Linked DNA regions of Homo sapiens: regions 2, 3 and 4 are each linked to region 1. Evidence: fine-mapped QTL for protein levels in blood plasma. A gene starts in region 1. Each other region holds a variant in brackets. All regions are shown on one strand. Distances are between the middles of the regions.

What was found. PIP is the posterior inclusion probability: the model's chance that the variant is causal. Protein levels are from antibody-based Olink assays in UK Biobank. Linkage for the fine-mapping came from a reference panel and not from the study's own genotypes, which makes the PIPs less certain.
Region 2: its variant is fine-mapped to the plasma level of the COL5A1 protein (UK Biobank, PIP above 0.99).
Region 3: its variant is fine-mapped to the plasma level of the COL5A1 protein (UK Biobank, PIP above 0.99).
Region 4: its variant is fine-mapped to the plasma level of the COL5A1 protein (UK Biobank, PIP above 0.99).

The regions. Positions count from the first base shown.
Region 1 is chr9:134,638,556-134,646,653 of GRCh38, reverse strand. It overlaps COL5A1 (collagen type V alpha 1 chain), which reads right to left and starts at 4,851. Exons shown (of 66, transcript NM_000093.5): 1 at 4,358-4,851. The coding sequence starts at 4,466. RefSeq lists enhancers at 1,326-1,910, 3,166-3,872.
Region 2 is chr9:134,599,625-134,607,722 of GRCh38, reverse strand. No RefSeq gene overlaps it. Among named protein-coding and RNA genes, the nearest start is that of COL5A1, 38 kb to the left of the region's middle. RefSeq lists enhancers at 3,590-4,501, 4,502-5,414. The variant T/C (reference allele first, on the strand shown) is at 4,782.
Region 3 is chr9:134,450,311-134,458,408 of GRCh38, reverse strand. All of the region lies in intron 1 of LOC105376311 (a long non-coding RNA gene), which reads right to left. Among named protein-coding and RNA genes, the nearest start is that of MIR4669, 75 kb to the right of the region's middle. RefSeq lists enhancers at 1,007-1,943, 1,944-2,881, 3,225-4,060. The variant AT/T (reference allele first, on the strand shown) is at 3,286.
Region 4 is chr9:134,464,089-134,472,186 of GRCh38, reverse strand. All of the region lies in intron 1 of LOC105376311 (a long non-coding RNA gene), which reads right to left. Among named protein-coding and RNA genes, the nearest start is that of MIR4669, 89 kb to the right of the region's middle. The variant G/A (reference allele first, on the strand shown) is at 4,344.

The DNA.
Region 1 (8,098 bases):
AAAGGGAAACAGGAGGAACGGGGGCAGAGAAAGGGTTAAGGAAGCTGCCAGGATCTGCCACTTCCCTTAGGGGCACTTGTATTCTCCTGGCAAACAGATACTGGGAGCACCTGCCAAGCCCGTGAATGAGGGGCTTTCCAGCCAAGGGAGCCGCCCAGGAGAGCTCTGGGACACGGTGTGGAATGTCCTGTCAGAAGGAGGGAAGAGAGCAAGATTAAAGCCAGAGGTGGAGGAGGACCCCACGAAGGAGGGTCATTTCTGCAATAAAAGGAAGGAGAAGAGAAGGAGGGAAGGCCAGTTTCACATCACCTCCTCCAGGAAGCTCCCCAGCTCTCCCCAGTGCAATTAACCCTCCCAGACTGTCGGATGCAAGACCCAGCACATCCCATGGAGGGCCCTGAGTAAAATTCACAATGGTCTGCCTGTCAGACTGTGAGCTCCTGGAAGGAAACGAGGGGTCCCATCCCATTTGCCTCGGTCTCCCCAAGATAGGCCCGACCCAGGTGAAAAGGCAAAAGCCTTCAGGGTCCAGGCAGGTTATGCTGATGTGCAGAGAGGCCTGGGAAGTGGTGGAGACTGTGGCTGCTGCATCCCTCTTGAAGGCACTGGAGTAAAAAGAGAAGGGATGGAGGGACAAAGGGAAGGAAGGAAGGGGATGGGAGAGAGGGAGGGAGGAAGAGAGGGAGGAAAGAAGGAAGGAGGGAAGGATGGAGGGGGAAGGAGAAAGAAAGGAACTTAAAAGCTGTGTTGGCCAAATGGAATGGCTCTGCTCCCAGGACCCTGTTTGGACTGGGCCCCCAGGCCAGGACTATAGCTCAGGGCCCTGGCCTTCTCCCCGGGGAGAGCTGATAAACCGATGGGAAGTGAGAAGAGGGAACTGTGACAAGTCAAAGAGTGACCATGCCAGGCGAAGGGCCGTTGCTGGCTTAGGGCCCCACAGCAGGAATGGAAGACATCTGCCTGGCATCCCTGCCCCCTGACTCCTAGGCTCTGTCCCTTCTCAGGCCCGGGTGAGGGTGCAGTGAGATGGTGCAGCTGATGCTCACCACAGGCCAGGCAAGTGCCAGCCCCTCCATTCCCATGTGTGATTGTCTCCCAAGGCCATTCCCAGAGCCACGTCACGTGACCGAGCAGGGACAGGTCCTGCACTGTTCCAGATGCAGCTTGGCTCAGGCTCCTATGTGGGTGCCCTCGGGAAGTGTTGGGGACTCATCCTCGCCCTCCAGCGGGGCAGCTCACTGCTCTGCACAGCCCCTACTCCACCTATCAAGGTCTATCTCCCAGGAGGTGGGATGGGGCGGTCCAGGGAGGAGGCAGGGCAGGCAGACAGGCCAGGCAGCGAGAAGGCAGGGCGGGACGGGCAGCACCAGCTGTGTTCGGCTGAGGCGTGGCGGTGGGGAGTCCAGAAATATCTGCAGGGCGGGGTGAAGAGCAGGCTCTGGCCAGCCCCGCAGGAGCAGCCCAGGAGTAACATCACTGGAGAAACCACTGTGAGCCTGGCACTGGGAGCACGCCCCTGCCTGGGGCTGCCGCACTGCTGGGTGGGCACAGCCCTGGGTAGCAACCAAAACTCCAACCCCTCCGGCAAATCTGGACCACAGCAGGGAGAGGGCTTGGGGAATTCTTGGGGCTTCTGAGCTCCTCCCACTCACTGCTCTTTTATGGGGAGAGGGAGGGAGGGGGCAGAGGATGGAAAAGGATGTCTTTCCAGCCAACTTGATTGAGTCAGAGGAAATTTAACCATTTGATACCTGTCAAGTCTCACAAAACTTGGCCGACTCTCCCCACAAATTATTGCAAAAAGCAATCACGTGACTGGAGTCAACCAATGGCGTGTAGAGGAGATGACCTCAATTTCCAAATATTGGGGTCATGTTTCATTTCCCATACTCTCCTTCCCCGTTACACTGTTCAGCAGCCCCAAATGCAATCTTACTTTTCATTCCTTCACACACTTGGCCAAAAGAAAGCAGGCAAAAGAACTGTGTTCAGAAAACCCTCAGAAAACATCTGGCAGATCCGAAGATGGAGAAGACAGCAGGCACTTGCTGGTGGCTCCCCCCCGCGCCTGCCTCTCCAGTGGACAGCCGCCCCCTCCCCGCCACGCCTGCATTTCCAGTGGACAGCCGCCCCCTCCCCCCAGCGCCTGCATCTCCAGTGGACAGCCGCCCCCTCCCCGCCACGCCTGCATCTCCAGTGGACAGCCGCCCCCTCCCCCCAGCGCCTGCATCTCCAGTGGACAGCCGCCCCCTCCCCCCAGCGCCTGCATCTCCAGTGGACAGCCGCCCCCTCCCCCCAGCGCCTGCATCTCCAGTGGACAGCCGCCCCCTTCCCCCAGTGCCTGCATCTCCAGTGGACAGCCGCCCCCTCCCCCCAGCGCCTGCATCTCCAGTGGACAGCCGCCCCCTCCCCGCCACGCCTGCATCTCCAGTGGACAGCCGCCCCCTCCCCCCAGCGCCTGCATCTCCAGTGGACAGCCGCCCCCTCTGGCCATGCTCGAAGGATGACTTCCAAATAGGTCCCACCCTGGGAGGTGGAGAGACGTTGGCAAAACTCACTAAGAAAAGTGGTCTCTCCACATGCTTCTAAAAGTCTGTTCTGACAAAAGCAAAATGTCCAACTCCATAGCCTGCTGCTCTGGGCCATCCTCACTCCCACTTCCAACGAGCCGCACTTCGATTAGCGAGGGCAACCAGAGAGGGAAAAAGACAGTGTGGAGGTGGGGAGATGGGCAGGGAGGGAAATGGAACCCCAAGCCCAGTCCGGTGCATGGTCCCCAGGCAGTGCCCTGCCCCAGCTGTCTAGGGTGACGATTCCCCTGAAGGACTCCCTCCTGAGTTTCTGGGGAAAAGTCCCCAGAGGCGCTGAGACAGGGCCTAGTCCCCCGGCAATGGCACAGTCCCTGACCACACCTTCCTTCTCCTCTCCACTTTTCTGGGGACCTCTGTTGTCCCCCACCTTCAGCTAACCCCTGGAGAAACACAAGCCCAGTTAGCCCAGGGTCAGGAGAGAGTTGGTGGCGGCCCAGGGATGAGATCCCAGGTCCTGGGAGCCAGGCCAGGCTCCTGGCTCCTCCCCCAGAGCCCCAGGGCAGCCCCCACACCCAGACTCCAGCTCATCCAGTTAGCCCAACAAGCACTGATCGTGCCAGGGAAAAAGGAAAAGAGTGTTTTAATTGACAAGCGGAACACGGACAATGATTCTTCCCACTTGTCTTCCAATCGTGAAGCAGAGAGAAGCATTCTTGCTGGCAGGCGGCGGGCTGGTCCAGACGTTCGCTGAGCCCACCGTCCCATCGCTCTGCCCGCCACTTCTCCTGACCTGGCAGCACACAGCTCTGAGCCTCCATCTCCCCGCCTGTCAATAAGGATTCGGGGGACCTTCCAGGGCTGGGGGCTCTGATGTTCGAGAGTCTGTGAAAACCCACCCCGCCACTAACTACCAAGAGCGATGCCTAGAAAAACTCCCCCGTCAGGAAGCTGCGCCAGGGAGAGTTGAACCCTCGAGAACCCAGGCAGGGACGCAGACAGTCCCCGCCTTGAAGCGCCCTCCCCGGGAAGCAAGCCTCCTTCTAAGGGCTGACCCTTGGCAGAAGGAATCCCACATCTGCATATCATCCCAACCACTCACAGCCCCGCCTGCAAGCCCATCTCTGGCTTTGCTCCACGCATCCCATCTCTCAGCAGCGAATCCAGGAAAAGCTGCCTTCCAGGGATCAAGAAGTTTGGGGGTGGGATTAGGAGCAGGGCTGTCTACCACCCTGCAGGGGTCCCCAGTGCCCCCGAACACTTAGGTGACCAAGGCTGCAGGAAACGCTGTCCCTGGGGAAAGCAGGGCGCCAGCTCAGCCTAGAGTGACAGTGCCTGGGGGAAGTTCAGTGCTGGGGGCCCAGGCTTCTGGGATTCCCCCCATCCCCAGGAGTCCCGGGATTTGAAGGGCTGTAACTCTAGGGGGCGGCCCTGCCCGGTTTGGAGCAGAGGAAGTTCTGCTGTAGGGCTGTGAGGGCCCAAGCTGGGCGCCTGTGATGTGGGACAGAGAAGGAAGGTTTTTGGGACAAAAGTTTGCCCGCCTCGTGGACAACCCCTCCTGCTGATCCAGCCCTCGGTCCTTCCTCGGCTCGCGCGACAGCCCCACCCGACCCGCCCGTCTGGGGAGGGGGCGGCGGCGCGCCCGCGGGCATTGTGTCTGCGTGTCGTCATCTCGGGGGGGCCCCCAGCAAATGGCATTCGTGGTCTTGGCCCGTGCATTCCACAGGCCAAGGAAGAAAAGTTCTGCGGGCGAAGGCGCCCGGGGATGACAGCGGCGCCCGGGCTGCGCGCGCCCCATCCCGCAGCCCCGCGCCCCGGGGCGCCCTTACCTGCGCGGCTCGGAGGCGGCGCCCACAGCAGCAGCAGCAGCAGCGGGGGCAGCAGCGGGGCGCCCGGGCGGAGCGCGCTGCGCGCTTTCCAGCGGGTATGGACGTCCATGCCGGCGGGGCGCGGGCCGGGGCGCACAGGGGCGCTCGGAGGCGCGCGGGGACGCACAGGGGCGCGGGTCACGGCCCGGGCAGCGCACTCAGCAGGGACCGCACCACTTTAGGAGGTCATGGGGACCTCGGCACCCCCCGTTCTTCTTTGTGGCGGCGGCTGTTCTGGAAGGGGCGGCTGGCGCGCTCGCCCACGGGCGGGAGGGCTCGACTTTGGCCCGCGGGGCGGCCGGGACCCCGCTGGGCTAGCTCGCCCTCGCCTCCTCCTCCTCCTCCTCCAACTCCTTCTCGCCTCCTCCTCGCCGCCGCCGCCCCGCGACCCGCTCCCCGTGGGCGCTCCGCTCGAGTGAGGTCCTGCGCCAGCCGCGGGGACGGAGAGTGCGGACCTCGCCTTCGGCGCGGAGCACTTTTTTCCCCCTTTTCCTCCCTCCCTCTCTCCTGGAAGGCAGCCGCGGAGGCTGTCGATCCCCAACGCCCGCAGCAAATCAGAGCCCGGCGCTGGGCTCGGCGAGGCCAGCCCCCGCCTCCCACTGGGCGCCGCGGGCGAGGGGGTGGGGACAGCGGGCGAGTCGCAGCGAGGAAGGGGCTGGCCCGGGGCGGAGCGGACGTGGGGCGGGCGCGGCCCCCTGTTCTTTCTCTGAGAGCCGGTAGGCGGGCGGGCCTGGGGCGGCCTCGGAGCCCAGGGGCCCACCCTGGTCCCCCCACTGTTCCCACCCCAGGTGCCCGCACCTGGCCATGCTCCAAGAACCAGTGCAGAGGGGCCCCGAGGTTTGATCACTTCGGGTTAAAAAGAAAGTTGCAGTTTACCCCGCCTAACTTTTTCTTTAACGTGGAGGAGTTCAGAGCTCCTCTTCTGGGTGGAGACTAAACTTCCCATCCAGCCAGATCAGGGCGCCCAAGACTGTGGCCTACGTGTCAACCCGGACCGAGGACCTGCCTCCTAACTGCAGATTGGCACGGGACCGAGCTGGGGTCTGACTTCCCAAGAGCTCCCGGGACCTCCATGTGCTTGGACGGGAACATCTGGGTTATTAATCAGGCGAAGTTTGGCTCTGCGGCCCCCAGGCTCTCACCCCTCACTCCTGCCCACTCCCTGGTGGCCCCTCTGCAATAAAAAGGAAACCAAAGAAGGCATCCCCTTGGGAGTGACAGCTGGCGCAGGGAGAAGGCATTCCTGATCGGCTGCTCTCGGAGAAGAGCTGGGGCCCTGATTCTCCTGCCTGGCTTCTTTAAGCCCCTCGGGGTCTCCTCCAGCAGGAGGCCCGCCAGTCTCTGGGTGGTAGGTGGGCGTCTCTCCCTCCAGCTTCCCCAGGCCTGGCCTCCCTGCACAGCCTCCTGAAGCCTGACCCACACCCCTTCCCCAAGGGCTGCAGGGCTAGTTTTTTAAAAGGAGGGAATCAGAATGAATTAAGAACGATTTGCAAACCCTGGGCCATCCCCATTCCCTTTGAACAAACAATTTAGCCAGAGATGCCAGACAGGGCTGGGACTCCCCTCTCCAGTTACATCTCCAGACTGGGCGTGAAATTCCCCAAATGCTCTTTAATTCTCACCATTCTGGAAACAGGAGGTGAGAGAGGCGTCCGAGGTTAGGTTTGCCAGGATAGCCATGGCAGGCTCCGGAGCTGGGTGATAGGTCGCTGTTGCTAACTTGGTGATGAGGCTTTTAGTCTCCATATCTGCCACATGCGCTTGCATAGATATCAAATATTTCGCAGGAAAAGAATGAGAAGCTCTTCACACACAGACGTGGGGAGGTGCTTGAGATACATTCAGTAAAGCAAATGTTAGTTCTGACCTGTTTCCTTGTTGATTTTATTTTGTTTTACAACTTGTATAAGGCATATGTGATCAGGCAAAAATGTGTGTGAGTTGTGTGCATGTGTGTGTTTGTGTGTGTGCCTGTGTGCGTGTCTGTGCGTTGGTTAACCTGCAGCCACTGGCCCTTTACTTTCCCTGTGGACTTCAATGAGTGAGAAATTCCATCAAACCCCAGACTCCGCGCCAGCCCCAGCTGTGCTTGGTCCTTGGAGTGCCCCCGCCCCTACCAGCAAGGCCAGCTTCACCCCTGAAGACTAGGGGTGCTGACACAGGCCATGGCCTGGTTATCAGAAGAGAGTGGAGGCTTTCTGGTTCCAGCTTCTTTTTCCCCAAGCACAAGTGGAGTTCCTTTCTGACAGTCCCATGTGCACATCCGTGCCAGTCAGCAAGCCCTCCTGTAACTCACAGCCAGCATCTAAACTTTGCCCTGAATTAACACAACTGGCGCCTTAAGAGCTGACACTCAAGTGACCACCCCAAGGTCCCCCAAAAGTTGACTTCTCAGCAATGGTAAGATGGCTCAGTCTTGCAGCTCAAGCAGCCATGACAGATGCACTTTATCCTCTCTTGGAGAGCAAGTGGTGCGGTGGCTTGGAAAGCTGTCAAATGTGAGTTTCCACCCTCATCTGAGCCTTGAGTTGGGTGGAGAGATGAGTTTCTATCCCACCAGGAAACTCAGAGAGAAGTCCCCAAACTTGGCGGCCTGATGTGTCAGCCAGGGACTATGGCAGAATGGCCCGGCAGTACCAATCAGGATTCGAACTGTGTTGCCAAGCTAAGAATATCAGCCACATCTTAAGGCTTTTGCCTCACACTCTTCACCCACACGTGCATCAGTTCTCATGCACCGGTAGGGAATACTGGCATCTCTCCCATCCACAGATGAGGAAATCAGGGGCCACAGAGGGTAGGGGACTTACCCAGTTCATCCGTGACAGGGTCCGGATTTGGACCCAGGTCTCCATGCTTGGAGCCCAGTGTGCACTGCCTGCCTCCCCATGGCATCCGGACCACACGCCTGCCGCCAGGACCACCCTGCCCAGATTCAGACAACAGCAACTGGTGCAGATTGTCCCAAACTCACCATGTTCCATGCCCTCCCACAACTGAGCAAAACCAGAGTCCTTGGAAAACTGCTTATTGCGCGCATACTCCTTGCCAACACCGCTCTAGGCTTTAGGGAGTATGTGGTGAGCAAGGTGCCTGGGTCCCTTCCACATTGACCTGCAATGCAGCAGTGACTCCCACGCCCATGCAGAGGTGGCCCCTTTTTTGCATGTGTGTCTTCCTTGTCTTCTGCTATCCATCGTTTCCCATCTAGCCCTCCCCGGCTGCCTGCTCCTGTTCATGGCACTCACCGCAGAAGGCTAACCAGGTCCTGTACCCTGTGTACTCCTGGGCCACCGGGAGCGCCACCACCCATCACTGCGTGTTTCCCACAGTGCCTAGCAGAGAGTGGAGCAGGCCAGGTGCCCTGCACCTTACACGTGGAGTCCGATGGCCCAACTTCTCCTTCCAAGGCTGTGTTTCCTCTCATTTATTTTTCGAGCGGCAGAGCTGTGGTCCGGACAGAGCGGCCATGGCAACCATCAGGTGTTGCTCTCATGTGGACCTGATGGTTCACCACCAGTCCTGAGGGGTCACACCAGCCTCCCAGAGTCACGTCTGGCTGGAAAATGGCCAGCTGCTTCCCAAGACAAAGGCCTTGAGGGGCAGCCAGATTGTCCCTTCTTCTTCTCCTAGACCCATGGAGGAGGTGGAGGAACAAGGTCTTCTTGGAGTGCCTGGAGGCAGATATCTGCTTGCCCTCTA
Region 2 (8,098 bases), 39 kb after region 1:
TCTCCTGACCTCGTGATCCACCTGTCTCGGCCTCCCAAAGTGCTGGAATTACAGGCGTGAGCCACCACACCCGGCTGCTACTCTGTCCTTTTTCACAATGTGAGGATTCAGCAGGAAGGTGCTGAGACAGGAGGCGGAGCTTGATTCAGGAGGCAGGGCTCCATTCAGGAGGTGGGGTTCGATTCAGGAGGTGGGGCTGGATTCAGGAGGCGGGGCTTGATTCAGGAGGTGGGGCTCAGACACCAGAGGAAATGAGGACAAGCTAAATAAAACAGGAATGGAGAGGAGGGAGCTTTCCATAAGACACACCCACCCACCAATGCGCCATTGTCAGTTTACCATTGCCATGGCAACCATCTGACCACTTGAAAGTTACCACTCTTTTCCTAGAAATTTCTGCATAATCGGCTCCTTGATTTGCATATAATTAAAATGGGTATAAATATGCCTGCAGCCCTGCCTCTGAGCTGCTACTCTGGGCTCACTGCCTATGGGGTAGCCCTGCTCTGCAAGGAGCAGGACCTCGGCTGCTGTGTGCATGGCTGCTTCAATACAAGTTGCTATTCAACACTGTCCTCTCACCCTTGAATTCTTTCCTGCGCAAAGCCAAGAACTCTTGTGGGTTAAGCCCCAATTTGGGGCTCACCTGCCTTGCATCAGCACCTTCTGTAAACCAGGAGACAGGTCCTCACCTAACACCAAATCTGTTGCCTCCAGAACTGTGAGAAATGAATTCCTGGTTTTTTTTGTTTGTTTGTTTTGAGATGGAGTCTTGCTCTGTCACCCAGGCTGGAGTGCAGTGGTGCGATCTCAGCTCACTGCAACCTCTGCCTTCCAGGTTCAAGTGATTCTCCTGCCTCAGCCTCCCAAGTAGCTGGGATTATAGGTGCGTGCCACAACACCTGGCTAATTTTTGTGCTTTTAGTAGAGACAGGGTCTCACCATGTTGGCCAGGCTGGTCTCAAACTCCTCACCTCAAGTGATCCACCTGCCTGGGCCTCCCAAAGTACTGGGATTACAGGCATGAGCCACTGTGCCCAGCCCCTGTTTTTTTTCAAGTGACCTGACTTAGGGTATTTTGTTATAGCAGACCCAGCAGACTATGATGGAAAATAGGTGCTGAGAAGTGGGCTGTTGGTATAACAAACCCCTGGACATGTGGATGCAGCTTCAGAGCTGGATAATGGGTAGAGGCTGGAAAAGTTTTGAGGTGTGTGCTAGGAAAAGCCCACATCACTGTGAACTGACTGTCGGGAATGATTCTGGTGAGGGCTCGGAAGGAGAGCAGGAGAGAAAGCCTCAGTCTTCTTGGAGATGACCTAAGTGGCTGTGAATAGAAGATTGGTGGGGATGCGGACGGGAGAGGCCATGATTGTGAGGTCTCAGATGGAAATGAGGAGCACTTATTGGAAACTGGAGGAAAGGCCATCCTTGTTACCGAGTGGCAAAGAACTTGGCTGAATTGTGTCGCGTCTGGGTGTTCTCTGGAAGGTGGAACTTGTATGCAATGAAACAGGATATTTGGCAGAAGAAATTGCTAAGCAGTGTCAAGAGTGAAGCCTGGCTTCTCTCAATGCTTGGAGTAAAATGCCAGAAGAGAGGAATACTTTAGACAGGTGGAATTTGTAATCAAAAAGGAAGCAAAACTTTAACTTCGGAAAATTCTTAGTCTATCCTCATTGAAAAGAATGAGAAAGTGTATTCAGGAGAAGACACTCAAGGCGTGGCTGCATTCCCATCTGAGAAGGAGACAGTTCCATCTACACTGAAGCCAGGAGCTGTTGTCTAAGACAATGGAAGAGTGGACCGAAGACTTTCAGAGGTTCTGGAGCTGCCCCTCCCATCACAGGCCCAGAATGCCAGGGCCTGGGGGCCAAGATGATTCAAAAGGGGCCACTCTAGCTTAGAATCCACTGGGCCCAGACCTGGCACAGGCCACACTGGCCCTGCTCTCTGGGGACCTAGGGGTGAACCTTTGCTGTGTCTGCATGGTGCTATCTTTGCCAGTTTGCACAGTGCATGAGCTACAGAGCTGTGGCTGCCTCCAGCTAGATTTCTAAAGATGGAGCCAGCTGGAGACACAGGTTCACGACCCACAACATAGACAGGGCATGACTTCAGGGGCTGGGCCCCACAGAGAGGCCCATAGCGGTAATGCCTGCGGGAGCCAAGCTGTGGGGCCAGGGCTCCCTCTCCATCCCAGACCAGTAGAGCCACTGGCTTGTGATTTCAGTCCAAGAGAGTTACAGACGCCACCCAGCAATGTCTCAGGGGCGGTGCCGGAGGAGCCTTGCAGCCCAGTCCCTGCCCCAGTGTGTGCGGAAGGTGGAATGATTATCATTATTATTATTTTTGAGATGGAGTCTCACTCTGTCGCCCAGGCTGGAGTGCAGTGGTGCGATCTCGGCTCATTGTAAGCTCCACTTCCCAGGTTCACGCCGTTCTCCTGCCTCAGCCTCCCGAGTAGCTGGGACTACAGGTGCCCGCCACTACACCTGGCTAATTTTTGTATTTTTAGTAGAGATGAGGTTTCACTGTGTTAGCCAGGATGGTCTCAATCTCCTGACCTTGTGATCGGCCTGCCGCGGCCTCCCAAAGCGCTGGGATTACAGGCATGAGCCACCGCGCCCGGCCTGAACGATTATTCTTGAGTCTAAGACTAGTCTGCCTCACTGGGTTTCGGGCGTGCTTGGGGCCTGTTATCCTGTCTTCTTCACCAGTTATCTCTTTTGGAATGGGAGTGTCTGTGCTACACTTGTCCCACCATTGAATTTTGGAAGCATAACGTGCTTGATTTCACAGGCTCACAGCTGGAGGGAAATCTGCCTCAAGATGAATCGTACCTTTGGTCTCACCCACATCTGATCTAATAAAGGAAAAAAAATAAACAGGCTTTGAGGACTGTTTAGCTGCAGGGAAAATGTTCACCATGTAACGTGAAGTGACAAAGCGAGTTCCTAACTGCAGCTGATTGTCGATCGGCAGAGACTGGCACACTGGAGCAGCATTCGCTGTGATCACACCACGGGCACACACAGAGGAGTCCAGTGTAGTTTGTGTGAGGGAGAGAGAGAGAGATTGGATTTGAGAATGGAACTGAAATTGTGCATGAATGGAATTTGAATTCCAAGACAAACCCCATCTAAATTCTCGCTCCTAGAGATAGCTTAGCCCTGCACAGTTCATCTAACCTGTTTCTACAACGTGGAGTCTTTGGTGGAATGAAGGTAGGGAAAAGCCTCCCTCAGAGGGCTGTTTGAGGGGCGCCCTAATAAAATGCTGATAGTCGAAGAGGCTCTGCAAGCTGTGACGTGCTGGGCAATTGTTCCTCCTAATTTCCAGTGAGAATCGCTTCCACTCGGTGTGTATCCAGAATGAGTATCAGCACAGCTCAAACCTTCTAAGGCTCCGGGACCCAGAGTGGGAGCTTGGGAACACCAAGAAGGCCATGAGGGGAGGGAGCTATGGAGAAGGAGAGAGAGGGAACCACATTGCCAGTGAAAATTCTCCCCCACCTTCTTTTCTTCCCCTCCCTTTCCCTTCTTATTTTTCCCTCCCTTTTCCGTTCTTTCCCCTCCCTCCCTCCCTCCCTACCTTTGTTTCTTTCTCTCTCTCTTTCTTTTTTTCTTTCTTTCCTTCCTTCCTTCCTTTCTCTCTCCTTCCTTCCTTCTTTTCTTTCTTTCATTCTTTCTTTTTTTCTCTTTCTTTCCTTTTTTCTTCTTTTTACTTCTTCATGCATTCAAACACCCATCCAGTGTCCACTGTGCCCCAGGTCTATATCAGGCCTATAACATGAGGCTGGCTCCGTCTAACCTCAAGGAACATCACTTGGGGGACAACGGCTTTTATCACTGGGGGATGCCCGTTCAAGTCCACTGCGTTGTGTCTGCCTTTGTGCGCTCAGCAGAATCCCAGCCACACTCACATTCCCACAAGGACATTCCCCCCATCTCATCCCTTCTGGGTCTCTCTCCCTGTGGCCCTCTGTGCCTAGACTTGGAAAGTTGACCTTCTGTACCCTTTACAATGGTGGCCTTGTTGTTCCCTGGGCGCTGGAGGCCCGAGGAGGCCACTGCTTCTCTGTAGCCTCGCTGTGCTCTGGGCCAGAGTGTGGTGCCCTTGCGCTGGCCCACGATGCCCTGCCTGCCAGGTGAAAGGCACCAGATAACACGACATGTCTTTTTTTTTTTTTTTTTTTTTTTTTTTGAAACAGAGTCTCAGTCTGTCGCCCAGGCTGGAGTGCAGTGGCGTGGTCTCGGCTCACTGCAAGCTCCACCTCCTGGGTTCACGCCATTCTCCTGCCTCAGCCTCCCTAGTAGCTGGGACTACAGGCGCCCGCCACCACACCCGGCTAATTTTTTGTATTGTTTTTAGTAGAGACGGGGTTTCATCATGTTGGCCAGGATGGTCTCCATCTCTGACCTTGTGATCCGCCCGCCTCGGCCTCCCAAAGTGCTGGAATCACAGGCATGAGCCACCGCGCCCGGCCGACATGCCTTTATCGTCATATATACACATAGCAATTAACCAGACAAGAGTTCCTCGTTTCTCTCCTGGCTCTGCCAGAACACGGAGCTGACCCCCTCGGTGCTTGCAGGGGGGCCGCCCTGGCCGTGGTGTTGGTGGCCCAGGGCAGGGTGGAACACCCGCCATCCTCGCACCACACCAGCAGGCTTTTCCTCCAAGAAGAAAGGGGCGGTGATGGGAAGGACGGATGATCCAGTCTTTGTCAGGAAATGGCAATGATGCAGGCCTTGAGCAGGCCTGCGGGTTCCCATAAT[T/C]GCTGGGCTCATCAAAGAAAATCCATCTAAGCAAATTTAAGAAGAGCCAGCCCCCTGGCTGGGAGCTGCTCAGGCCATTTGTCATTACTTCCTCCTGATAAGGCCAGTGTTTCATCCAGGAAGAATGTGGCTCGCGCGTTCCCAGTCTCTTTCTCGGGCCATTCCGAAGGTGGGAGCTGCGGACCTCTCAAGAGCGCAGACGGAGCCCCCGGCTCTGTTTGCAGAAATTCCACTGCCGGTCTGGGCTGTGAATCATGCTCAGGGTTTGGAAAAAGTTGCAGCATCAAAGCCAACTGAGGTTTGGGGCTCATCCCAGATGTGGTGTCGGGGCAGGGGGAAGGGCAGTGTTCCTTCCCGAGGCTTCCCCATAGGCACTATCTGGGGACAGGGTGGGGGTGGGGGCCATCAAGCTAAGGATGGGACTTAGTCACTGGTCAACGTTCCCAGAAACCTGGATTCCTCCAGTTGACCAGCTCAAACCACAAACACAGCCTCTGCATCCTGGTTCTACAATTCTCTAAGGGGCCTCAAACAATTTCTACGAGTGTCCCCAAGTCCCCAGAATAAAACTGTTCCTCAGCAGGCACACAAACCCTTTTACCATCACCCCAAACATCCAGAATGTTGGTGAGACACCAGGAGCTGGGAGTTGGTGGGGGGGGAGTCTTATTACCAAATAGTGGAAGGACCCCCCAGTCATCTGGCGACAGAGAACTTAGAGAGACCAAAGGCCACTTTTTTTTTATAAACAGAGAAATTGAGGCCCAACAGAGCAAAGGAGTCCCCCCTCCACCCCAGGTCCCAGAGCATTAAACAGCATAAACCACAGGACCTGCATCGACTCTAGAAATGTCCACCATTAGGCTCTCCTCCCACGTGACCTGCTGAGGACATATATGCATTTTTCCACTTTATAAGCAAATTTGCAAGACTTCACATGGAAGTCATTCATCACCACCACCTCTCACCCCATGGCCTCCTTTTGCAAGTCTTCACATCTTGCTCTCTGGCACAGCTGGAGTGCACCCCTCAGGGATATTTTTCCAGAAGGGTGTGCTGCCGCTGAGAGCACGCCCTTCTGCGGCCATCACCCACTGCAGGCAGCTCGCTGGGCATGGAATTTAGAGTCACGTTCTCTATCCTTCAGTGTGTGCTGGAGTGTTGTTGCTCCAGTGGCATTTCATTTCATGCTGCAGAGAGATCTTGGGACCAAGCTGATTCTGCTCCTTTGTAAATGAACTTTCTCTCCCTCTCAGGAGGACGTGAACCCTAAGAATGAGGTTTTCGTGTTTCCCATAAGAAATGAGTGCAGCTCAGCCAAGTTTCTCCATAGGATCCAGGGTCCTGCCTGGGCCTGAAAACCTGGACTCCAACTCTGTCCTGTCACGAAGTGGGTTTGTGGCCTTCAGTTGTCACTTCACTCATTTCTTTAGGGAGATAATACTTCCTTCCTGTATCTGCTAGCTCAGGCATGGTTATGCTGGGAAACAAGCATCCCCTGGCATCTACATGGTTTAAAACAAGAAGGAAGTATTTCTTGCTCCTTGTACCTTGAGGGTCAGGGGCCTGTCCTGTACCTCTGGACACCTTCACTCTGTGGTCCTGGCTGCTGGAGCCTCCACCCCCTGGGAATATCGTCCATGGCCGTGGGAACAGAGGACTTCTCTCAGTGCCTCTGCTCAGAAGTAAAATGGTGGCTTCATTTGCAGGAGCAAGTCAAATGACCATGCTCCACTTCAAGGAGGGAGGAGGTGCTGCCCCCTGCCCAGAAGCTGAGGGAGGTGGGCACTGGTGAGAAGTAGGAATGACAGCTCATTCCCTCCCAGGGTCCACATGGGGGACAAGGAGACCCTGACCCCACAGCCAGCAGCACACCCCGGTGTACGCAAACAGCAGCAAATGCAGGGCCTGGGGACTCTGCCCTGGGCGCTCCATGGTCGCTGACAGTTAACTATGGGAAGCTGGAAAAGCCAGAGGGCGGGTGATGGGGCTCTTTCTGCTCCAGGCCACCAGGTAGAGTAGGAAGTGATACTCCTTGAAGTGGCTCAGGGGCAGCGTGTGCACCCAAAGGAGGAGCTTCAGGGAGGGACAGCTGAGAATACGGCCTGGCCTGGCCTGGCCAGCAGAACAGGGACCATGATCCTGTTTACTTCTCCATTGCCCGTGTGGGTTTCTTTTTTTCTTTTTCTTTTTTTTTTTTTTGTTTTTTATAGACTGGGTCTCGCTATGTTGTCCAGGCTGGTCTTGAACTCCTGGGCTCAAGCGATCCTCCTTGGCCTCCCCAGCAGCTGGGACTGCAGACAGGCACCACCACGCCCGGCCCGTGTGAATTTTTTCTTCTCATTTCCCTTTACTTGATGTAGGTTGGGGACCTTACTCTGGAGATCACTCACGGACACTCCTTTGAAAAGGAAGAATGTTGCAACCTGGCAAAAGTGGGATCATCCAATTTTCTAAATCCCCAGGTCCTTGTGATCCTTAAGAAGTGATCTTGTTTTATCTGAAGCTCCAGATGCAACAGAACTCAGGTGGGAGAGTCTGGTTTCAAGTGCAAAGCCCCATGGAATGGGGCGTGGAATCCCCAGCCCACCCCGTCCAGGGCAGCTGGGATTTTATCTTTATATTCTCTCTCTTTTCTTCCATCTCCTTCTCTTCTCTTTCTCTCTCTCCCTCCCTCTTCCTTCCTGCCTCATCCCCTTTCACCCTGTCTCTCTTCTCTCATTCCCTGCTTCTCTCCTCCTTCTCTTTTCTCTCTGTCTCTCCCTCTGTGTCTCTGTCTCCTCTCTCTCCTCTCTCTGTGTGTCTCTTCTGTCTGTGTGTGTCTGTCTGTCTGTGTCTCTCTCAGTATCTGTCTCTGTATGTCTGTCTCTGTGTCTCTATCTTCTCTCCATCTCTATATGTCTTGCTGTCTGTGTGGGTATCTCTCTCTCCTCTCTGTCTCTGTGTGTCTCTCTGTCTCTGTGTGTCTCTCTATGTGTCTCTCTTTTCTCTGTCTCTGTATGTCTCTCTTTTTCTGTGTGTCTGTCTCTGTGTGTGTCTGTCTCTTCTCTCTGTCTCTGTGTGTGTCTCTGTGTGTCTCTCTCTTCTCTCTGTCCCTGTGGGTGTGTCTCTGTCTCTGTGTGTCTCTCTCTGTCTCTCTCTTCTCTCTGTCTCTGTGTGTGTCTCTGTCTCTATATGTCTGTCTGTCTCTGTGTGTGTCTCTGTCTCTGTGTCTTTCTGTGTGTCTCTCTCTTTTCTCTGTCTCTGTGTCTCTCTGTGTTTCTCTTTCTCTATGTCTCTCTGTGTGTCTCTCTCTTCTCTGTCTCTGTGTCTCTCTG
Region 3 (8,098 bases), 190 kb after region 1:
GCCTCGACAAGCACAGGCCCTGCTGCTCAGGCCCGTCTGCAGAGGCCTCAGCGGCCCACCTGCAGAGTGGGAAGGGGGTCTGTGGGGGGGTTCCCCGTGGGCCTTAAAAGTCCACCAGAGGCTTGACCAAGGTGAGCCCAGAGGGAGGGTGCAGGCCTTGGCCCCTGGTAGACTGAGTGCCAGAGGGCAGGGCCTGGGTCTCAGGGCACAGCACCAGTCAGCTGTCAATAAACACCGGTGGATGCGACTCCGAGGCCTCCGGCAGACACGCTCGTCCACACCATGGAACTGGGCTTCCCCTTCAGGCTTCATTTCAAGGCGTTTCTGAGACTACACCTGGAGATGACAGGACACTACACCACAGTCCAGAGACCCTGTCTGTGACGGCCTCAAGGCAGAAGTACTTGCCACGTGGCAGGCAAACCCTTCCTGCCCTGGGGGTCCCCTTGCACTAAAAAGCCTCAGGGGTCTGGGGCAGGTCTGGGAGAGGCTGTGTCCTTCGCCCAGAGGCCTGGGCTCCATCAGGGTGCAGCACTGTCCCTGGGAAGCCCTTGGACTCTTGGGCAGAGAAGCAGCAGAGAGAACCACCCCAGCTCCTGAGATTTCAGGGCAGGCAGGACCCAGCTCAGGATGACCCCAGGGCAGGAGGGACAGAGATAGTGACCAGAAGCTGGGGACACTGTGAGAGACACAGACCCCGGCCCCACCCCACAGGACACAGAGGGACACAGACCCCGGCCCCACCCCACAGGACACAGGGGGACACAGACACTGGCCCCACCCCACAGGACACAGAGGGACACAGACCCCAGCTCCACCCGACAGGACACAGGGGGACACAGACCCCAGCCCCACCACACAGGACACAGGGGGACACAGACCCCGGCCCCACCCCACAGGACCCAGAGGGACACAGACCCCGGCCCACCCCACAGGACACAGATGGACACAGACCCCGGCCCCACCACACAGGACACAGATGGACACAGACCCCGGCTCCACCCGACAGGACACAGGGGGACACAGACACTGGCCCCACCACACAGGACACAGAGGGACACAGACCCCAGCTCCACCAGACAGGACACAGGGGGACACAGACCCCGGCCCCACCACACAGGACACAGAGGGACACAGACCCCAGCCCCAGCTGACAGGACACAGGGGGACACAGACCACGGCCCCACCCCACAGGACATAGAGGGACACAGACCCCAGCTCCACCCAACAGGACACAGAGGTACTCAGACCCCAGCCATACCCTACAGGACACAGGGGGACACAGACCCGGGGTCCACCCCACGGGACATAGAGGGACACAGACCCTCGGCCCACCCCACAGGATGCTGGGACGATGGAGACACCCAGCCGCATGCTACAGGACACTGTGGAAACCGCTGATCCTGGGGCCATTGGAAAGCAGGGAGCCCTGAGGGCCTGGCCATGGCCCCCCTGCCAGCCCGGACCCCCATAGCTCTGCCTTGGAGTGGAAGCTTAGCTCTAGGCAAGGCCGGGCCATTTCTGTCCAGGAGCCTGTGGGGTCAGATGGGGTAGATGCAGGCTGAGCAGGGGAAGGCACAGCTGGAGCTCGGAGGGCGATTGGGGACAACCCAGCATGTCCAAAGTTAGGGACCCCCTCTCCCAGCTACAGCTTCCCTCCTTCTGGGAGAGACCCCTGTTGGTGGGCTGTCGGGCTGGAGCATGGCCGGCAGCTGGCCCGAGCCATGTTTCGTGGGGTGTGTGTCACCACGCAGTCCGCGAGCTTCATAGTTTCCCACTGACGTCACCGCATGGCTAGAATGTGAAGTGACTGCAAACCCTCAGAGGCATAATTGCAGTTGTCTTTGCAAAGTGAAATCAGATGGCTTTTGCAAACCTCCCCCAGCCCTGCCTTCTCCCCGCGGCTCTCCCTTTTTTTTTTATTATGTTCCTTGGGCCACATCCAGATGTTTCCTGCAACTACAACCCTCCAAAAGTTACACAAAGAGAGCGAGAGCGTGCAGCTTCCTGCCTGCAGGGTGGAAGTGGCGACGTGGCAGGGTGGGGGCGGCCACGTCTACAGGGTGGGCGGGGGCGACCACGTCAGCAGCTGGGGCAGCAGGCTCCAGGCAGGTCCCAGCCCCCTGCCTCCTTGTGCCTGGGGTCTGGGCGCTGAGAGACAAGGCCGGAGGGCCACGGTGCATGAGGGACAGCCCCTTCCGGCCGCTGCGGCCCTGGCCCAGCAGTGGGCCGAGTGGAGACCGCGGCCGGGAAGGAGCAGGGCACCTCGGTCAAGATCAGCCTTTGGGTTCGGGCTGCTCCGGGCGCCACTCCCAGCTGCGCTACTTACACGTGTGGCCTGGGAGCCACGTCTCCACCGGAACCTCTGTTTCCACGGCGATAGGGGTGGTTGCTGGGAGCTTTAATTAAAACCAGTCTCTGTCCACTGCTGGCAGCAGGGAGCGCCTCACCTGGACCCAGGCACCTAGGACAGGTGTGGTCTCGGAAGACACAGCAGAGCCCGACACGGAGGGGCTTACAGGGGAAGGGCCTTGAAGGAGGCCCAGGGTTTCCTGAGGCACAGGCAGGGAAGGGGGGCCGAGGCGAGGAAGCGGCTTTATCAGAGGCCTGGCAGCTGGGCACAAACGCCGTGGGGGCCCAAGGCGTCCCTGAGAGAGACGCACGTGAGGGTCTCTGGAGAAGGAGGTCCGCCATTTCCAGGGAAAGGGGACACCTGTAGGTTTCCCCTGCGGCATCCCTCTGTCCTGTCTGCCTCCCTCGCCCAGAGGATTCCCAACTGTAGGGGGCAGGCAGGGCTGGCTCACGCCTGACCTCAGTCCACAGCCTGTCCCTCTCTGACCTAGGCCATCCCTGGGTGTAGGCACAGTCCCTGGTGGGCAGAGCTGGGAACGTGGACAGGTGGAGACAGGTGTCAAGGCCAGGCAAAGGCTCAGCAAAATGTCTAGAGGGGGTAAAATGGCCCCCGAACCTTCCAAGGGCTGTTTCAGAAATAGGACTTGAAAGTTCGTAGTCAACCCAGGCTGACACCTCCTCATCACCTGCCTTCAGAACCCATCCATGGAAATGCTGACACTGCAGTTCAGGGTCCCCAAACCACCCTCAGGCTCAGGGACGTGCTGGACTGGCTCACAGAACTCAGCCAGGCAGCGATACCCGAGGTCAGGGTTTAGCGCCGTGAAAGGACATAGCCTCGAACCAGCAAACTGGGCATCTCTAGAGGGCAGGGTTTAGGGGAGACCAGACTCCAGCACCCAGGGGTCTTCTCTCAGTAGAGTCGGGCAGACG[AT/T]GCTCAATTCTCCCAGAATGGTGTGCACCAGCCAGGGGGGCCCAGCCACGCCTCGGGGCTCAGGGTTCCTACTGGGGGTCCATCGCAAAGACATGCCTCACTGCCCGTGTGCTTGGCCTTGGTCTCATCCCCAGGATGATGAGCCGATACAGCACAGCCCAAGGTCCCACTGTAAATGACATCATTAGCGCGGTCACTAGGGTGGCCCAAGACCCCCAAGCAAACACAGACACTTATCACGCAGTATATTTCAAGTGGCTAGAGGTCAGAGGTCACCTCCCAGGAGCTAGGCCAGAGCCAGACCTTTCTTTGGAATGTGCAGGGTGTGGACAACTCAGGCCTGCTGAGTTAACCCTTTCCTGCACAGTGACCAGAACCCACCAGCACCCCACTGGGAGGTGATCAGCTTGAATGAGTCCCGACTGAGGCAGGAGAGGGGAGGAGGCGGAGAAAACCACAGACAAAATTACAGTCCAGTGGGAGCCAGGGCAGCTGGCGTCACCTCCATTTTACAGATGATGTGGGATGGAGGCAGGAAGAGGGGTTATGACGTGCCCAGGTCACAGAGCCAGCCTGGGATGGTGCCAGAACCCCACCCTGATCTCATGCAGCTTGCTCCTGTCACCCCTGGCCCCGCCTCTTCAGCAGTGGAGGAGACAAATGGGGCCTGGCCCATGCCTTGACGGGGGCCCTAGAACTGGGGGCCTGGTGGTGGCTGCCTCCTGGGAAGTATCGGCGTCTCTCTTGAACTAAGGTGGAGCTTGGGTTTTGAGAGCAAGCGCTCTTTGCAGTGGCCACGTGCTGGGCCCTGCTCAAACCTCTTCGGACTCCCAGAAAGAATGAGGTCGGGCCCTTTCCACCCTGAAATGTGCAGCAAGCATCTGAGAAAGGGGAGGGCAGTGCTAAACCCTCAGGACGGAGCCCAGCGGCTGTGATCCCGGGCAGCAGGGAGGCAGTGTTAGGGGAGGGGGAGGCCTCCTTGCTGCCCCCACCAAATCACACGGACCATAGGGTGTGGATTCCAGAACAACTCCCTCTTTCCACAAAAGGGAAAGCCGAGACCTCGAGTGAGCAGAAAGGATGAGCCTGTGGTCACACGGAGCTTGTCCCAGGCCGGCCGCTCCCATGCTGCTGCTCCCATGCCGCCGCTCCCAGGCTGCCCATCCAGCTAAGGATGTCCCTGACACGGGTTCCTTTGGATTCTTCATAGAAACATTTTGGAAGATTCATGTCTAAGGGTTTTAATGAAAATGGCAGCTTTCCAGGCTGGTCTTGGATAGCAATCGTGAGCAGCCCCGCCGGCCAGTGCTCACCTGGGGCCCCAACCACTCGGGAGGGGGAGGGGGCATGTTGAGTCAGCAGCAAGAGAGATTGCAGTTAGACCTAAGAAAGTCCACCCAAGTGAGAGCCAGATGGCCATGCCTGGTTATAGACAAGTTTCAGGAGCCCCTCCACAGCCCCCCACCCCAGCACTTCCTCCTATAACATGCAGGTACAGGGCCTGGAAGTTCACAGGCACACGCACAGTAGCCTAAAAGCCTCAGTGATCTCGGGAAGTCCTCATAAACAGTGGTTGGACCAGGTGATACCGTCCAATGGTCTGGCCAGCATAGCTCAACGTTTATGGACTCTTCGGCACGCAGGCACCATTCTGCCCTCCCAGGCCGATAACCAGAAAGGCATGCCATGATTCTTCCAATTAGCTTAATTGGGAAATTGGTTCCATGTGGTCTCAAGGGCCACCATCTATGGGAGAAGGCAGGTCAGCGGGACAGCGAGTCTCCCAGCACCAACCCACAGAGCCCCCACCCAGAGGGAGCTTACGGGCTCAGAGCAAGGAGCCTTATTCCACACCTCCTTTTCTCCTTGTACTTCCAACCCCACCATCTGGGGTGGAGCTCTAGCTCATGGTAGATGCTCTGAAAACCGTGGCTGTAAGCAGCTGGACCTCCAGGCCCCAGTGTTCGTCACTATAAGATGGGGAAACGTCAACACTGGCCCAGGGGGCAGGAATAAGATGATTTGAACCATGGGTCTATAAGGAGCACCTGGTGGGGAGGTCATTAAAGGCCCTTGGTTTCTTCAAGCTGACCTGGACCTTCATGAGCCCTACTTGGGGCACCAGGGAATTGGGAGATTTTCTTTTCCCTATTTCGCACCTGAAGAACTCCTGTTCATCCGTCAGTGCCCTGCTCCAGTGCTGCCTCCTCTGGGAAGCCATTCAGCCTCCTCTACCCATGGTTGCCTCTCCTCCATATTCCCATCGCACCTTGATTATGGCCTCCTCATGGCACAGATCAGCCCACATTTGCTGCCCACATGCAACACCATGAGAATATTCTAGACCTGCACTGTCCAATGCACAAGCCACTTGCCACATGTGGTTTCGAGAGCCTGAAATGTGACCTGTACAAATTGAGATGTGCTATAAGGCTAAGATAAACACCAAATCTCAAAGACTTGCCACCAAAATATGAATGTAAAATATCTCAATAATTGTTATATTGATTGCATGTGGAAATTATAATATTGTTTATGTATCGGGTTAAATAAAATATTACACTTATTTCACCTGGTTTTAGTGTGGCTACTAGGAAATTTTAAATTAATTACATATATGGCTCACATTGGATTTCTGTTGAACAGACTCTGCAAACTCTGCTCTCTCCTGGAGCCAAGTACAGGACCTAATCCATGCAATTTCCAGTCTGTATTTGCTGAATGAATAGGTGGATGGATGAATTCTGGGTGGGTGGGTGGATGAGTGGATGGATGGGAGGGTGGATGGATGGATGAATAGATGGGTGGGTTGGCTGGGTGGATAGATAGGTGACTGGGTGAATGGATAAGTAGACAGATGGGTGACTGGGTGGGTGGGTGGATGGATGGATGAATGGATGGATGGATGACTGGGTGAGTGAATGGGTGGTTGGGTGGATGGATGGGTGTGTGGATGGATGGATGGATGGATGGATGGATGACTGGGTGAGTGAATGGGTGGATGGGTGGATGAGGGTATGTGGATGGATGGATGGATGGATGGATGGATGGATGGATGGATGGATTGGTGGGTGGGTAGGTGGATGTGGATGGATGGATGGATGGATGGATGGATGGATGGATGGATTGGTAAGCGGATGGATGGATGCATGGATGGATGGATGGATGGATGGATGGATGGATGGATGGATGGATTGGTGGGTGGGTAGATGGATGGATGGGTGAATGGATGGGTGGATGGGTGAATAGATGGGTAGATGGATGGATGGATGAATAGATGGATGGATGGATAAATTGGTAAGCGGGTAGATGGATGGATGGATGGATGAATGGATTGGTGGGTGGGTAGGTAGATGGGTAGGTGGATGGATGGATGGGTGGGTGGGTGAATAGATGGGTAGGGAGATGAGGTGGTGTATGCACAGGGCTAAACACCATGAGCCTTGCCTTGGAGCCTCTGATTCACCATGGTACACCTGTGCACTTGTGAAATGCAGACAACTTGTGAAATTTACAAAACCACAGTTCCCACCTCTTGGAACTACACCCAATTTATTCATGTGATCAGCCCCAGTGGGTGCCTGCCTTGGAGTCTCAGGGGACCTGGTTAAGAAGATGGGAAGCTCTAGCCAGCAAGGAGTGAAGAGGTTTGCAAACACACTCTTGACCAAGCCTAAAGACTAAATCCAGACCGTGCTCAGGCTGGATTGGGCCTGAGGGAGGGGAAGACTGGGAAGACTGGGAGCTGGCCTTCTTCTCAGGGAGGAGTCTATAAGGCAGAGGAAGGGATGGAGGGAGAGAGGGAAGGGAAGGAGGGAGCAAAGACACAGGCCAGGCAAGCCTCCTGAGCAGGAGGAAACGTTTGTGAAAGGTGAAAGAGGCATTCGAAGGGGGATTGAGAAGAAGCACTGGAATTGCTGGATGTCTGGGCGATACATCCAGCAATTCCAGCACATGTCTGCCTGGGCAACATGGAGAACCCTCAGCCCCAATGGTCCCCGCCTCATCACCAGCCTCTCTCCCCATGTGTCTCTGTGTTACTCTTTGCACACCTCAGTTCTCTCCTGCCTCTGAGCCTTCGTATATGCTGTTCCCCCAGCCTGGGATGCCTTTCCCTGTATTGCTGTGTAGTTGTGCTATAGACAGAATATCTGTGTCTCAACAAAAGTCATGCATTGAAATCCTAACCTCCAAGATGATGATGTTGGGAGATGGGACCTCTGGGAGGCTCTGCCCTCATGAGTGGGATGAGCACCCTTATAAAAGAAGTCTCTGAGAACTGCCTTGCTCACTTCTGCCATGTGAGGATGCAGACAGAAGCAGCCAGCTCTGAACCAGCAATGGGCCCTTGCCAGATACCAAATCCGCAGGTGCCTTGATCTTGGACTTCCAGCCTCCAGGACCATGAGCAATAAGCTGCTGTCTGTGAGCCACCCAGCCCAAGTGGACTAGGACAGGTCGGCTTCCCGTGGAGGCCCCACCTGCCATGCTGTCCAAATCAGCAACCCCACCACCACCTCCCACACTCACTGCCTTCCCCATGACTTGATTCCTCACATGCTTATCTGGGACCAAGGGCTCCAGCTCCAGATGCAGGCATCCACCAGCCTCAAGGCCAGGCACCACAAGCAGGCCCCAGGCATGCCACTTTCTCCCCTCTGTCTTCCTTTGACCTCAGAAGGCACCCTCCTGAGGCTTCCTGCAGTCTCTGGGGACAACTTAGTTGTGTCCCAGTGGGGTTCAACTCATTAGAATTCATAGTCGCTTTGTAGTTGACAAGGTCTGCTCCAGAAGGACCACCACAAATCTCCC
Region 4 (8,098 bases), 170 kb after region 1:
GACCTGAATCACAGAAGGACAAGTTCAGGAGGACCCAGGCTCAGGAGGACCCAGGCTCAGGAGGACCCAGGCTCAGGAAGGTCCCAGGCTCAGAAAGACCCAGGCTCAGGAGGACCAAGGCTCAGGAGCACCCCAGCTCAGGAGGACCTTGACTCAGAAGGACCCAGGCTCAGGAGGACCCTGACTCAGGAGGGTCCCAGGCTCAGGAGGACCCCAGGCTCAGGAGGACCCCAGGCTCAGGAGGACCCTGACTCAGGAGGACCCAAGCTTAGGAGGACCCAGGCTCAGGAGGACCCTAGCTCAGGAGGACCATGACTCAGAAGGACCGAGGCTCAGGAAGACCCAGGCTCAGGAGGACCCCCAACTCAGGAGGGCCCCAACTCAGGAGGGCCCCAGGCTCAGGAGGATTCCAGGCTCAGGAAGAGCCAAGCTCAGGACTATTCAGGTTCAGGAGGGTCCCAGGCTGAAGAGGATCCCAGGCTCAGGAGGACCCCGACTCAGGAGGACCCAGGCTCAGGAGGACCCCAGGCTCAGGAGGACTCAGGCTCAGGAGGATCCCAGGATCAGGAGGACCCAGGCTCAGTAGGACCCAGGTTCAGGAGGGCCACAGGCTCAGGAGGACACAGGCTCAGGAGGACCCTGACTTAGGAGGGCCTCAGGTTCAGGAGGACACAGGCTCAGGAGGACCCCGACTTAGGAGGGCCTCAGGCTCAGGAGGACCCCAGGCTCAGGAGGACCCCAGACTCAGGAGGGCCCCGGGCTCAGGAGGACCCCAGGCTCAGGAGTTACCAGGCTCAGGATGACCCAGGTTTAGGAGTTCCCAGGCTTAGGAGGACCCAGGCTCAGGAGGACCCCAACTCAGGAGGACCCTGACTCAGGAGGACTCAGCTTCAGGAGGACCCAGGCTCAGGAGGACCCAGGCTCAGGAGGATCCTGACTTAGGAGGGCCCAGGCTCAGGAGGACCCAGGCTCAGGAGGACCCCAGGTTCAGGAGGACCCAGGCTCAGGAGGACCCTGACTCAGGAGGGCCCCAGGCTCAGGAGGACCCAGGCTCAGGAGGACCCCAGACTTAGGAGGACCCAGGATCAGAAGGACCCTGACTCAGGAAGACCCCAGGCTCAGAAGTTTCCAGGCTCAGAAGGACCCATGCTCAGGAGGACCCAGGCTCAGGAGGACCCCAGTTCAGGAGGACCCTGACATGGAAGGACCCAGGCTCAGGAGGACTCTCACTTAGGAGGGTCCCAGGCTCAGGAGAACCCCAGGCTCAAGAGGACCCCAACTCAGGAGGACCCTGACTCAGGAGGACCCCAGGTTCAGGAGTTCCCAGGCTCAGGAGGTCCCAGGCTCAGGAGGACCCTGACTCAGGAGGGCCCAGGCTCAGGAGTTTCCAGGCTCTGGAGGACTCCAGTTCAGGAGGACCCTGACACAGAAGGACTGAGGCTCAGGAGGACCCTTACTCAGGAGGGTCCCAGGCTCAGGAGGACCTGGGCTCAGGAGGGACCCAGGCTCAGAAAGACCCCAACTCAGGAGGACCCTGATTCAGGAGGGCCCAGCTTCAGGAGGACCCAGGCTCAGGAGTTGCCAGGCTCAGGAGGACCCCAGTTCAGGAGGACCCTGACACAGAAGGACCCAGGCTCAGGAGGACTCTGACTTAGGAGGGTCCCAGGCTCAGGAGGACCCCAACTCAGGAGGACCCTGACTCAGGAGGACCCCAGGCTCAGGAGGACCCAGGCTCAGGAGGACCCCAGGCTCAGGAGGACTCAGGCTCAGGAGGACCCCAGGCTCAGGAGGGCCCCAGGCTCAGGAGGACACAGGCTCAGGAGGACCCCAGACTTAGGAGGACCCAGGATCAGAAGGACCCTGACTCAGGAAGACCCCAGGCTCAGAAGTTCCCAGGCTCAGGAGGACCCATGCTCAGGAGGACCCAGGCTCAGGAGGACCCCAGGCTCAGGAGGACTCAGGCTCAGGAGGACCCCAGGCTCAGGAGGGCCCCAGGCTCAGGAGGACCCAGGCTCAGGAGGACCCCAGACTTAGGAGGACCCAGGATCAGAAGGACCCTGACTCAGGAAGACCCGAGGCTCAGAAGTTCCCAGGCTCAGGAGGACCCATGCTCAGGAGGACCCAGGCTCAGGAGGACCCATGCTCAGGAGGACCCAGGCTCAGGAGGACCCCAGTTCAGGAGGACCCTGACATGGAAGGACCCAGGCTCAGGAGGAACCCAGGCTCAGGAGGATCCAGGCTCAGGAGGACCCTGACTTAGGAGGGCCCCAGGCTCAGGAGGACCCAGGCTCAGGAGGATCCCAGGCTTAGGAGGACCCAGGCTCAGGAGGACCCCGGCTCGTGAGAACCCAGGCTCAGGAGGGTCTTGTAGTTGGTTTAATGCTTTGTTGTTGCCCTCTTAAAATTCTTAGTTATTTCCATCTGGAATGTGGGACCTCTGTTTTCTCTTTGCAGAGGCTCTACACATTCTGTAGCCGATCCAGCTCCCAGCCCCCACGCTGGGTGGGTCAGAATCCTCATTTCCTACCCCAGCACTGTGGCTGCCCATCTGTGAAATGGGTTTAGTGCCCACTTCCTAGGGTGGCCTGGGGTGGCGAGAGAAACAGAGACAGAGTTTTGACTTCCTGGGGTGGGTGGTGAGGGGTGGGGGACAGGGAGAGAAGAGACAGGGAGGGCAGGCAGGGCAGGGACAGGCCCCTGCCTCAGTCTAAAGTCTCTCACTCTTTTTCCTGTGGCCGCCCTCTTCACTCCCTCCTGGCCAGTCCTCAACCCTCCCCAACAAGCCAGGAAGACTCGGCATGAATCCCGTGGAAAAGAAGTGGCTGCACATTTTCCGAGATGTTTTAAACATTGTTTTGGCAAGACGGCGGCTCCTCCACGGCCCAAGTCACCCTGACATAAAACAAGCCTGACCAAAGCCAGGGCCCCAGCCCGCCGGCCTCCTCCGGCCAGCCAAGGTCTGGCTGCCATGCACTCATCACCTTCCCAGCCCTGCCCCTCCCAGATGCCGGGCACACCGGGCGGGGGAGGCCGGCCTGCCTCTTCAAACGGCCTCTTTTTAAAGCCAAGGAATGCCTCTTGATGCGTTTGTTTCTGTGGTTGCTAACCAGCAGCATCGCATGGTCTGGGAGGCCAGCAGGACACCCGGGTGACTGGTTTCATGCTCTGCACAAACTGGGCCAAGAAGGGGCTCCAGTCAACTAGCGTAGCCCCCCGTGGTGCAGGGGGAGAAACTGAGGCCCAGAGACAGGGGAGGAGGTTGCCAGGGTCCCAGATCAAGTGGCCATACTATGGGTGCATTCTGGGTCTTGCCTCTGAGAGGCAGGTCCCCGTGCTAGCCTGGCAAGGCTGCACAGGCATCGGGTTCCTGAGGGAGCATGCGTGTTGGGGGGAACGCAGGCAGCCTGTCTCCCCCACCTTATTTCTTGCCCCGTTGCATCAACCCTGTGCAGCGAGGGATAACATTGCCTCTACTTTACAGACATAAAACCAAGGCTTGGAGAGGTGAGGTGACCTGCTCATCACAGGCTGCCCCAGGTGGAACTGGGATTCCATGGGGTTGGTGTCTGGAGCTGGATCAGGCCCAGCCTCGTGGGCAGTCCCGCCCTGCAAATGGACAGGCCTTTGAGGTGGGTGCAGAGGTCCCAGCCTCCGCCTGCAGGGCCCTAGGGTCCTGGGATGGATGTAGCAGCCTGGCCTCATATCCTGCTGGGGCACTCGGGGGAAGTCGCGCCATCCCTCTAAACCCTCAGCTCCCCCACCTGTGAAGGAGGGCACGGGGCCATAAACATTAAGGACCTCATTGCTCCTAAACTACCTGGCCCAGGACCTGATTTAGGAAGAGCAACAAAAGGCAGCAGCCCCTTCTGGAAAGGAGGTAATACCTGCAAAGGGCTCGGACGTGGGAATAGGAGTCGATCATGCTGGCCAGGCTGAGACAGGACCCAGGCTGCCTGATGTGCATGGAGACAGGTCAGCCCAGCCCCACCCTGACATAAGCAGACCTCCCTCCTCCCCGAGTCTCAGGTCCCCTCAAGGGGCCAGGGGCTCCAAGAGCAGTTCCCATGGAGTGAAAGAGCTCTGCCATCTCTGATGATGCCACTGTGTCCTGCAAATTAAACTGACAAGAGGCAGATTAGGAAGAGGAAAAAAATGTTTTCATGTAGAAATGTACATGGGAGACCACAGGAAAATGGGATTCAGAGGAGTGGTTAGAATCTGGGGCTTACATATCCTCTTAGAGGTACACAAAAATCAGGGGAGAAGGAGAAGGGCACACACAGGAAAACGAATGGCTTTTTGGAAAGGTAAATGGGCCCTGAGGTGGACAGATTTGGGGTAGC[G/A]TGGCTCTGGGACCACGCCCGTATCCGTGTGCTATGGAGGTTTCTCGTCACTGACTATGATAAGAGTCCATCTTCCCTGGCCACTCCAGGGAGGGATGTACAGCAGTTGAGTTATTTCTAGTTCTTTTGGGGGGCTCTGCTTTTATTCAGATAAGGGGTTTCTGAAACTCAAATGCCTCCTGCACAAAATAATTTTATGCCCCAGCGGCGTGTTCTGAAGTCCCTTCCCCTCCCCCAGACCTTCCATCTGGCAGGTAAGCATCTCTGCTTTGTACCTAAAGAAACAAGGGCTCAGAAAGATTCAGACCTGCTCAGAGTCCCTGAGGGGGCACCATCAGCCACCCAAAGCCACCTTGCCCTGAGGCTGCACGCCCCAGAGTTTGGGAGCACAGCTGCTTGGTGCTGATAGGACAGCGCCCCAGGGGCCTCCAGGATGGCAGAGCCGCCTGGGAGCTGCTCAGGGACAGGGTCGTCCTCTGCTGATGCACCCTGGAGCGTCTGGTTGTCCCAGTGTAACTCCAGGCTGCTGGTACCGGAGTCTTCTCACTTTCCTCCCTCCCTTCTCACGGGTCCCCTCTGGGCTCTCGGCTCATGTCCCTGCATGCAGGTGGGTGTAGCAGGGTGGAGGGGTCCCTGGAATGGGGCTGGGGGAAGTAGAAAATCAAAGGCCACCCCGGAGCTCTGCTTTGCTTCCCGCCTCCCCAAGCTGGACACTTCTGCAGGGCCCAGGTCATCGGCATACTTCAGGGGCCCAGCACCAGGTGACCCCATCTCCCAAGTGCAGACCTGGAGTGGACAAGGGATCCGAGGCCAGTAGGCCCATTGGAACTGAAGCAAGGGACATGGGCAGTGGCACATGTGGCACAGAGTGGGCACTAATGGAGGGGCGGCTGGGTGAGCGGGGCAGAGGCGCGTATGGTGCAGAGTGGGCACTAATGAGGGGGCGGCTGGGTGAGCGGGGCAGAGGCGCGTGTGGCGCAGAGTGGGCACTAATGAGGGGGCGGCTGGGTGAGCGGGGCAGAGGCGCGTGTGGCGCAGAGTGGGCACTAATGAGGGGGCGGCTGGCTGAGCGGGGCAGAGGCGCGTGTGGCGCAGAGTGGGCACTAATGAGGGGGCGGCTGGGTGAGCGGGGCAGAGGCGCGTGTGGCGCAGAGTGGGCACTAATGAGGGGGCGGCTGGGTGAGCGGGGCAGAGGCGCGTGTGGCGCAGAGTGGGCACTAATGAGGGGGCGGCTGGGTGAGCGGGGCAGAGGCGCGTGTGGCGCAGAGTGGGCACTAATGAGGGGGCGGCTGGGTGAGCGGGGCAGAGGCGCGTGTGGTGCAGAGTGGGCACTAATGAGGGGGCGGCTGGGTGAGCGGGGCAGAGGCGCGTGTGGCGCAGAGTGGGCACTAATGGGGGGGAGGCTGGGTGAGCGGGGCAGAGGCGCGTGTGGTGCAGAGTGGGCACTAATGGGGGGGAGGCTGGGTGAGCGGGGCAGAGGCGCGTGTGGTGCAGAGTGGGCACTAATGGGGGGGCGGCTGGGTGAGCCGGGCAGAGGCGCGTGTGGTGCAGAGTGGGCACTAATGGGGGGGAGGCTGGGTGAGCGGGGCAGAGGCGCGTGTGGTGCAGAGTGGGCACTAATGGGGGGGAGGCTGGGTGAGCCGGGCAGAGGCGCGTGTGGTGCAGAGTGGGCACTAATGGGGGGGCGGCTGGGTGAGCCGGGCAGAGGCGCGTGTGGTGCAGAGTGGGCACTAATGGGGGGGAGGCTGGGTGAGCGGGGCAGAGGCGCGTGTGGTGCAGAGTGGGCACTAATGGGGGGGAGGCTGGGTGAGCCGGGCAGAGGCGCGTGTGGCGCAGAGTGGGCACTAATGAGGGGGCGGCTGGGTGAGCGGGGCAGAGGCGCGTGTGGTGCAGAGTGGGCACTAATGAGGGGGCGGCTGGGTGAGCGGGGCAGAGGCGCGTGTGGCGCAGAGTGGGCACTAATGGGGGGGAGGCTGGGTGAGCCGGGCAGAGGCGCGTGTGGCGCAGAGTGGGCACTAATGAGGGGGCGGCTGGGTGAGCGGGGCAGAGGTGCGTGTGGTGCAGAGTGGGCACTAATGGGGGGGCGGCTGGGTGAGCCGGGCAGAGGCGCGTGTGGTGCAGAGTGGGCACTAATGGGGGGGAGGCTGGGTGAGCGGGGCAGAGGCGCGTGTGGTGCAGAGTGGGCACTAATGGGGGGGAGGCTGGGTGAGCGGGGCAGAGGCGCGTGTGGTGCAGAGTGGGCACTAATGGGGGGGCGGCTGGGTGAGCCGGGCAGAGGCGCGTGTGGTGCAGAGTGGGCACTAATGGGGGGGAGGCTGGGTGAGCGGGGCAGAGGCGCGTGTGGTGCAGAGTGGGCACTAATGGGGGGGCGGCTGGGTGAGCCGGGCAGAGGCGCGTGTGGTGCAGAGTGGGCACTAATGGGGGGGAGGCTGGGTGAGCGGGGCAGAGGCGCGTGTGGTGCAGAGTGGGCACTAATGGGGGGGAGGCTGGGTGAGCGGGGCAGAGGCGCGTGTGGTGCAGAGTGGGCACTAATGGGGGGGCGGCTGGGTGAGCCGGGCAGAGGCGCGTGTGGTGCAGAGTGGGCACTAATGGGGGGGAGGCTGGGTGAGCGGGGCAGAGGCGCGTGTGGTGCAGAGTGGGCACTAATGGGGGGGAGGCTGGGTGAGCGGGGCAGAGGCGCGTGTGGTGCAGAGTGGGCACTAATGGGGGGGCGGCTGGGTGAGCCGGGCAGAGGCGCGTGTGGTGCAGAGTGGGCACTAATGGGGGGGAGGCTGGGTGAGCGGGGCAGAGGCGCGTGTGGTGCAGAGTGGGCACTAATGGGGGGGAGGCTGGGTGAGCCGGGCAGAGGCGCGTGTGGTGCAGAGTGGGCACTAATGAGGGGGCGGCTGGGTGAGCGGGGCAGAGGCGCGTGTGGTGCAGAGTGGGCACTAATGAGGGGGCGGCTGGGTGAGCGGGGCAGAGGCGCGTGTGGCGCAGAGTGGGCACTAATGGGGGGGAGGCTGGGTGAGCGGGGCAGAGGCGCGTGTGGTGCAGAGTGGGCACTAATGAGGGGGCGGCTGGGTGAGCGGGGCAGAGGTGCGTGTGGTGCAGAGTGGGCACTAATGGGGGGGAGGCTGGGTGAGCCGGGCAGAGGCGCGTGTGGTGCAGAGTGGGCACTAATGGGGGGGAGGCTGGGTGAGCGGGGCAGAGGCGCGTGTGGTGCAGAGTGGGCACTAATGGGGGGGAGGCTGGGTGAGCGGGGCAGAGGCGCGTGTGGTGCAGAGTGGGCACTAATGGGGGGGCGGCTGGGTGAGCCGGGCAGAGGCGCGTGTGGTGCAGAGTGGGCACTAATGGGAGGGGGCGGCTGGGTGAGCAGCGCAGAGGTGTGGGGAAGAGCTGAGGCATGACACCGGGGCCTCCAGGAGAGGCAGAGGCTGCCGGCTCTACCCCCAAGAGGCCGGCAGGACTCCCTTCCTATCCAGGAAGCCCCATGATGTCCCATCAGAGCTCATGACACCGATGTCATCCACAAGAGCTGGCCCCGGTGAGTGTCAGGTCCTCACAAGTGAGAGACATGGCCAGGACCCCCACAATGCCTCAGCTCCTACCCCATGTGCTCACCAGCCCTGGCATCCCCTTGCCCAGGAGGGGCACAGAGCATCATAAACCATCCTCCATCTCCCCCACTGTGTCCTCCACAAAGGACTCAAACTTCCAGCACAGAACAGGAGCTCTGCCTACAGCGGGGTCTCCAGGAGCCGAGGCTGCAAACCCAG